3 separate regions of the Homo sapiens genome follow, and all the other regions are linked to region 1. The links come from fine-mapping of genetic effects on gene expression. A gene starts in region 1. Each other region holds a variant in brackets. All regions are shown on one strand. Distances are from middle to middle. Region 1 holds the start of TGFB2 (transforming growth factor beta 2). Region 2 overlaps LINC02869 (long intergenic non-protein coding RNA 2869). Region 3 overlaps LINC02869 (long intergenic non-protein coding RNA 2869).

What was found. PIP is the estimated chance that this variant, and not a neighbour inherited with it, causes the effect.
Region 2: its variant is the best candidate, but not a certain one, in a credible set for the expression of TGFB2 in blood mononuclear cells (TOPMed, PIP 0.62).
Region 3: its variant is the best candidate, but not a certain one, in a credible set for the expression of TGFB2 in thyroid (GTEx, PIP 0.69).

The regions. Positions count from the first base shown.
Region 1 is chr1:218,344,180-218,346,940 of GRCh38, forward strand. TGFB2 (transforming growth factor beta 2) reads left to right here and starts at 1,157. Exons shown (of 7, transcript NM_003238.6): 1 at 1,157-2,761. The coding sequence starts at 2,523. TGFB2-AS1 (TGFB2 antisense RNA 1) reads right to left here and starts at 1,499. Exons shown (of 3, transcript NR_046268.1): 1 at 1,424-1,499; 2 at 996-1,209; 3 at 17-283. RefSeq lists a silencer at 1,085-1,144 and enhancers at 1,525-1,574, 2,706-2,761.
Region 2 is chr1:218,517,705-218,520,465 of GRCh38, forward strand. All of the region lies in intron 1 of LINC02869 (long intergenic non-protein coding RNA 2869), which reads left to right. Among named protein-coding and RNA genes, the nearest start is that of LINC02869, 9.0 kb to the left of the region's middle. The variant C/T (reference allele first, on the strand shown) is at 1,595.
Region 3 is chr1:218,510,224-218,512,984 of GRCh38, forward strand. All of the region lies in intron 1 of LINC02869 (long intergenic non-protein coding RNA 2869), which reads left to right. Among named protein-coding and RNA genes, the nearest start is that of LINC02869, 1.5 kb to the left of the region's middle. The variant G/A (reference allele first, on the strand shown) is at 1,490.

The sequences.
Region 1 (2,761 bases):
ACAACACACATCAAATTACTAAGTGTAGTATATGTTAGCTATTATTATTTTATTTATTCAGTGCTCTACTAATAACCTAGGCCCCATACACAACTGAAGTATAAATTCCAAAAGTGATAGAAAGTTCTTTGTGACTTTTCTGAACTCAGGAACATCTGAAGTAGAGAACAGTATAGAGATCTTGGGTTTGGGAGTACATTCAACAGAGTTTCCAGTTTAAATCATCTGTCTGGTCAGTATGGCTGCAGAGTCATGCCGAAATGAAAATGTTGACTTTGAGTAACTAAAGGTAAAATAAAAGAAAAAGGGAAGGTGGAACAGTGGTAAGAGTTATTCTTGTATTCATCTAATTTAGACTTAGTTGAAATTGAAAATGTCAAGTTATGAGTAGTGTAGAACAGTAGACATCAAACACTTAAAATTCCAGCTTCCTGGATTAATGCTATGGAAAGAATGAAGTTGGTTGATAATGTTTAGCCTAGCAAGAAGGTGAAGAAGAAAGCCATACAAGAAGTGGCTTAGGCAGCAAATTATAAAGGTGACCATTCATTCAAATCAGTAAAACAAACAAGTATACCTTATTCTTTAGGTAAAATTGATGGATCTCTGTTTTCCAGCAGTTCACAAACAGAGGGGTACATTGTAAACAACAAACTAACAAAATAAATTCTGGGATGGCAACCTGCTAAGGTATCCCAGAAAATAAGAGGTAGGACATGAATTTAAAAGATTGGAAGGTATGTCTTCAGTACTGGCCTGGCCCTGAGTAGACTAGTGCTCCCTCCCATAGGGGTGCGTGTGCACACATAATACAGGAGGGAAGCCTTCCCTTCTAGAGCAAGTGATTCAGCTTGGGAGGCTGTGACTGAGCTACACTAAGTAAAAACGGGAGACTTGATTGTCCTTCCTTCAACAGACCTGTCCAAAATGACTGGAAAGTAAATACCGTAAATCACTGTTGTCAGGGCGCACATTCCACCTCCTTCCTCCCTTACCCACAGCGGTCCTCATTTCCACACTCCCTCAACGGTTCGGGGAGAGCTCGTGGTCTAAGTAACGAGAGGACTTCTGACTGTAATCCTAGCACGTCACTTTGTTGAAGGCAGACACGTGGTTCAGAGAGAACTTATAAATCTCCCCTCCCCGGCAAGATCGTGATGTTATCTGCTGGCAGCAGAAGGTTCGCTCCGAGCGGAGCTCCAGAAGCTCCTGACAAGAGAAAGACAGATTGAGATAGAGATAGAAAGAGAAAGAGAGAAAGAGACAGCAGAGCGAGAGCGCAAGTGAAAGAGGCAGGGGAGGGGGATGGAGAATATTAGCCTGACGGTCTAGGGAGTCATCCAGGAACAAACTGAGGGGCTGCCCGGCTGCAGACAGGAGGAGACAGAGAGGATCTATTTTAGGGTGGCAAGTGCCTACCTACCCTAAGCGAGCAATTCCACGTTGGGGAGAAGCCAGCAGAGGTTGGGAAAGGGTGGGAGTCCAAGGGAGCCCCTGCGCAACCCCCTCAGGAATAAAACTCCCCAGCCAGGGTGTCGCAAGGGCTGCCGTTGTGATCCGCAGGGGGTGAACGCAACCGCGACGGCTGATCGTCTGTGGCTGGGTTGGCGTTTGGAGCAAGAGAAGGAGGAGCAGGAGAAGGAGGGAGCTGGAGGCTGGAAGCGTTTGCAAGCGGCGGCGGCAGCAACGTGGAGTAACCAAGCGGGTCAGCGCGCGCCCGCCAGGGTGTAGGCCACGGAGCGCAGCTCCCAGAGCAGGATCCGCGCCGCCTCAGCAGCCTCTGCGGCCCCTGCGGCACCCGACCGAGTACCGAGCGCCCTGCGAAGCGCACCCTCCTCCCCGCGGTGCGCTGGGCTCGCCCCCAGCGCGCGCACACGCACACACACACACACACACACACACGCACGCACACACGTGTGCGCTTCTCTGCTCCGGAGCTGCTGCTGCTCCTGCTCTCAGCGCCGCAGTGGAAGGCAGGACCGAACCGCTCCTTCTTTAAATATATAAATTTCAGCCCAGGTCAGCCTCGGCGGCCCCCCTCACCGCGCTCCCGGCGCCCCTCCCGTCAGTTCGCCAGCTGCCAGCCCCGGGACCTTTTCATCTCTTCCCTTTTGGCCGGAGGAGCCGAGTTCAGATCCGCCACTCCGCACCCGAGACTGACACACTGAACTCCACTTCCTCCTCTTAAATTTATTTCTACTTAATAGCCACTCGTCTCTTTTTTTCCCCATCTCATTGCTCCAAGAATTTTTTTCTTCTTACTCGCCAAAGTCAGGGTTCCCTCTGCCCGTCCCGTATTAATATTTCCACTTTTGGAACTACTGGCCTTTTCTTTTTAAAGGAATTCAAGCAGGATACGTTTTTCTGTTGGGCATTGACTAGATTGTTTGCAAAAGTTTCGCATCAAAAACAACAACAACAAAAAACCAAACAACTCTCCTTGATCTATACTTTGAGAATTGTTGATTTCTTTTTTTTATTCTGACTTTTAAAAACAACTTTTTTTTCCACTTTTTTAAAAAATGCACTACTGTGTGCTGAGCGCTTTTCTGATCCTGCATCTGGTCACGGTCGCGCTCAGCCTGTCTACCTGCAGCACACTCGATATGGACCAGTTCATGCGCAAGAGGATCGAGGCGATCCGCGGGCAGATCCTGAGCAAGCTGAAGCTCACCAGTCCCCCAGAAGACTATCCTGAGCCCGAGGAAGTCCCCCCGGAGGTGATTTCCATCTACAACAGCACCAGGGACTTGCTCCAGGA
Region 2 (2,761 bases), 170 kb after region 1:
GATTCGGAAACATGGCTTGGAGGAGAGGCTATAATTAGGTTACCTAATTGCTTCCCCATGAGTTGAACCAATGTACTCACCAAGCTGCAGACAGCCCAGTAAGAATACTGCAGGCTTTCCCCCTGCCCTAGCTTTCTTGCCCAGGGAAGGAGTGAAATTGGGACATGTTGGAATCTGTTGGAAGGGGCTGGTTACACTGCCCTTTCCTCCATTCTTGCCAGTGTTCAGTTCCTTCTTCCATTCTTGCCAATCTGATAATTTACTCTTCTGCTCTTAGGAAGTAAAGAACAGATAGAAAGGACAAAAACGCCTTTCCCATTTTTTTCCTCTTTGGAATGAAATGTATTTTTTTTCCCTTCCAAGGAAATATGAAGAGGTAGTGTTTAAATGTCTCCCTAAAAGTAATGAAACTATCTTTTTAGAAGTTTCTGTTTTGAATTCGCAGGAAAGATTTGAAATTGTTTCTAGTTGAGCTGAGTTGATTTTAATGCCTATAAACTTTGTGATCAGAGACAATACTTTAGCTTCCAAATTGCAAAATTAATGTTGGCTCATCTGCTTAAAGTCAGATAACTCTACCCTTTGGGTAAGCAAGTGAAACACCCAGTCATTTTGGTGGAGAAAAGCAGTGGAGCCAATTGTTTAACCGGATTGGCCAAAAAAGAAATGAGAGGGATAGATTTCAGATGCAAGCCATATGCTTCTGTTCCAAGGGGAGAAAAGAAAGCAGTCAGAACATTTGGTGGAGAAGGAGGGCCTGAATGCAAATTTACATGAACAAAGGAACAGCCAAGGAGAAAGACATAGAAAGATGATATAACAGCTGCAGACAAATACGCAAGTTAAAGATGACTTTGATACTGGTGAAGAATGCTGACTAATTTTGTCAAGTTTTTGATGCTGAGACAACATCAGAAGCAACTTTCACCTTGTTCAGGGATGACCTTGTGTGTTCAAATTGCAAAGAACTTTGTGTGAGTCAGCAGCACCATCTTTGCATTTAACACAAAGTTGCTTAATTGAGGGACAAGATGATGGTCAAGCTCCAGTTTGATGCTTTTTGAGGGACATTGTGGCCAACATTTAGATTACATACTGTGTTTTTCCTCTTGGAGCTATGATTTCCACTAGAAGAAGGTCAAGAGTGTGACTTTGGCATATTGTGAATAGTTTGGTGATATATCCCAGATTTGTCTAGTGAATTTTAACATTTTGTTGATTAACATTTACTGAGAGTTCTTCACCTGATCTAGTTATTCTGAACATTCTTTGACATGGTTATACTCTCTTTCATCTTGAAAACACATGTGTCAGTCAACCACATAACAACTGGCCCTTTACTGGAAGCAGATCAGAATTTTCATCCCAGGTCTGACACTCACCTTTCTGTGAGCCTGAGGAAGTAACTTTATTCATTCTTTCAACAAATATTTTTTAGGTACCTACATCTTTTCAGCACTGGAGATGATTTCTGCCTTCATGGACTCTAAGCTGAGTGAGGAAGACAGACCATTAAGCAGGTCATTAAAACCAAGTGCCATAAGAGCTATTTTAGGGGACCTACAGGAAGGAGCCTATGGCAGTGCAGAGGAGA[C/T]ACGTCTGTCTTAAAGGGTCAGAGAGAGCTTTCTCATGGTTTAAGCTGAGTCTGAAGAGGTTAAATAAATATCCGAGGAGCAAGTGCTTTGAAAGAAAGGAACTGCGTTTTAGACAGGGAGAAAAGAGAGCTGCAAGCAGGGAACTTGAATTCAGAGAATTTCAGTTTGCTGAGAACACGAAGTGTGAGGAAGGCCAGAGGGAGCCTGGAGAGGTTGGGGGAGAGAGATAAGAGGAATGTGGTGGGAAGTAAGCTGGAAGAAGTAGGTAAGATCTTTGGTTCCTTTAAACACAAAATAGTAATAATAATGTCCACTACACACACAAATTCTGAGAATCAAAGGAGAAAATGTTCACAGAACAGTTTTGTAATCTACAAAGCACTAGACAAAGGCAAGAAGACATTCTGACTGGGGTGTTGGCTGTAAACTGTGGTTCACTTTTCCAGGAGCAGGAACAGTTCTGCCCAGAGTTATGCTCTGAAGATCTTTTTGACCAACGTTGCAATGTGACAGGAGTTTTTTGTGAAAACATAAATTGCAATAATATGGTGTATTTGTGTATTTGTTTTCTATTTCCTTATACATTTTTTATAGATGTCTTTATTAGTTACTATTGGCAATGCCTGGTATATATGGCCAACCAACATGAGAAACATTTCCCAGAACCCTGAAATCATATCATAGAGGCAATGATCACACACAGAGGTGGTTTTAAGTACTCCCTGGACAATTGCTGTTTGCTCTGTCACCATCAATTCTAGGGTCTCTCGGTTGATAGCTGAATCAAGCTTAAGTTTTTTTTTCTATGTCCCAATTCATCCCTTCTTTCTGGTTTTGTTCTCAAGAATAAATTTTAGCAATGCATTGTGAGTAATTTTCTTCAGAAGAGCCAGCCAGTATTTCTCCTCTGTTGGTTAAACCCAAAACCTGGGTTTTTGCACCCAGCTTGTGGCTCAGGTCACTGTGTAAGCCTAGGACTCGTTATTTTTATATTTTCTTCCTCTGATAAGAGAGACTCGGGACACATAAGTGTTAAGCCTATCTAAATGTTTCACCCTGATTTCAAATGGATTTGTCATTTTCTAAGGAAAGGTATGTGTAGCTGGCGGATAGCTATAGTATGTGTACACACTTATAGTATGTGTGAACACTTATAACACTATAGT
Region 3 (2,761 bases), 170 kb after region 1:
TCCCAGAAGTTACAAGATTACACCGAGAAGAACGAGTGATCATAAAGTAAAAATATTCACGATTGAACTGACCACTTATGGAACTAACCCATGCTGTACTTTCTCCCACAACGTGGCCCTGGTTTCTGTTTCTATCGTCTCTGTTCCACCTCTGTCCATCTTATGTTATCTGTCTCTCATTGACTGTTGGTGGTTGACAATACCATGTGAACACAGAGTGAAATTACATCTCTTACAAAATATGAAGGATTTCATACAGACAATAAAGGTGATATTGGAGAACTGCTTCACCAATCATGGTCATTAACTGTGAGGATCTGTGAGACTTTAACCAGCACAGCATCACTGTGGCTGACTCAGCAATTTTTTTCCACTACCAATGATTAACCTAAGCAGATGATGGTAGTCCTGTTCCTTTTACCACTTATTTATTTCAGAATGAGTTAAGCAGGCATTAAAAGCGGACTATAACTGAGGGTCTCTTTTTAAGATTTTCAAGTTGGAAAATTCTGCTTTGATGCTAAGAGGCAGAATAAAACCCAGAAAGATTCATTCAATCTGACTTATTAATATTTGGAAGAGGTCAGTTTATTCTGCTCAGTTCAATTAAAATCAAATAACTTTAGTGGATAGGAATTATTCAAAAGTTTTTAATACTAGGATCTATTACTCTAGGCAAGCCATACCTAAGTAATCTATACAGTTAGGGGCAGGCTAATTTCAGGCAGCAGGAAACAGTCAGCTAAAATAGAGCAGAGACGGAGGAAAATACCACTTGGAGTGCCACTCACATGTTTAAGGGCAGACATGAAAAGGTAGGCAAGTGTTTCTCTTTCTTTTGGCAAGCATTTTATAGGAAAAATTCTACAAAGCTAGGAGACTACCTGGTAAAGCTAAGCCCATTTAGAAGGGGAGGGAAGGAAGAAAATAATGCAAAAAGTCAGAGTTCAGTATTGACAAGGGATCTTTTCATTGCATGTGATTGATGACTGACGGTTTGCCCCTGCTTTTTGATTCCTGTTTGCTGATTTCCCATTTTATTTACCCATAATCCACTCATTACTCTGATAAACCATGGAAGCAGTGGTCCACAAATCTGTGTTAGTTTCTCTGTTCTCTCTGCAGTCTTTTAGAGGTACCTGCTAACACAGCTTTAAAGATCCCCTGTAAGTCAAAATTAGCTATGCTTGGTGGCACATGCCCATAGTCCCAGCTACTTGGGAGGCTGAGGCAGGAGAATTGCTTGAACCCGAGAGGTGGAGGTTGCAGTAAGCAGAGATCACGCCTGGGTGACAGAGCAAGACTCCATCTCAAAAAAAAAAAAAAAAAAAGAAAAATCCCCTGTAAGTTAATGACTTCCACTTTCTATCTCTTGCCTTGAACGCCCATACTTCCTTCTCCCTACAGATAATCTACCTTGAAAGAATTTGCCACCATCTCACTAAACAGGTCAGTTTAATAAAATCATTGACTCCTAATAATCTTTGCC[G/A]CTGCGGTGTTCCTGGGCACTAGGCTGGTGCTTCTTAACTCTGGCTGCATGGTAGAAATGTGTGAGGAGTTTTTTTAAAAAAAGACTAATATCATCTCAGCTTGGAGAGACTAGAATTTGATTGGTCTGGGTCGGTTATTTGGTGATTTTTTTTTTTTTTTTTTTTTGACAGAGTCTCGCTCTGTCGCCCAGGCTGGAGTGCAGTGGTGCGATCTTGGCTCACTGCAAGCTCCACCTTCCCAGTTCACACCGTTCTCCTGCCTCAGCCTCCCAAGTGGCTGGGACTACAGGCGCCTGCCACCATGCCTGGCCAGTTTTTTTTTTTGTTTTGTTTTTTGTTTGTTTTTTTTTTTTTTTTGTATTTTTAGTAGAGACGGGTTTCACCGTGTTAGCCAGGATGGTCTCGATCTGATTTCGTGATCCGCCCGCCTCAGCCTCCCAGTGCTGGGGTTACTGGTGTGAGTCACCCCACCTGGTCTATTTGGTGATTTTATTGTGCAGCTAGGGTTAAGACAACCTAACTAAGCCCTGGGTTTTGGCTGCTCTTCTGCATGGTTTGTTCACTGTTCTCTGTGCATTTCTTCAGTCCTCTCTCCTTTGCCTGCACTCCACAACCACAAAGCAAGATGGCGACCCTCTTGCTCTCAACATTTGTGTAGAACCTTTTACAGAGTTGGGCTGTTTTTCTCCTATAGCTCTATTTAGTTGATACACAACAGGAAGTTGTCTTCAAGCATACTTTCTATCAAGGCATTATGCTATCCAGAATTCTGTATTGAATTCTGAATGTCTACTTTAAATAATTAAGATAACAGAACTCAAGGTTACCAACTCATTGACCTTTCCAGGTCCTTTTCCATTTCTCTTTAGAAATTGATCCGTTTTCTGTAGATTTCAAGTAGATTGATACTCTCCATCTCCTTTTCTTTTCTTTTCTTTTTTTTTTTTGAGACAGAGTCTCACTCTGTCTTTCAGGCTGGAGCGCAGTGGCACGATCTCGGCTCACCGCAACCTCTGCCTCCCAGGTTCAAGCAACTCTCCTGCCTCAGCCTCTCTAGTAGCTGGGATTTACAGGTGCCTGCCACCACACTGGTCTAATTTTTTTTGTTGTTGTTTTGTTTTTAGTAGAGATGGGGTTTCACCATGTTGGCCAGGCTGGCCTCGAACTCCTAACCTCAAGTGAACCACCCACCTTGGCCTCCCAAAGGGCTGGGATTACAGATGTGAGCCACTGTGCCTGGCTTCTCCATATTCTTTATATCATTTGTTCCT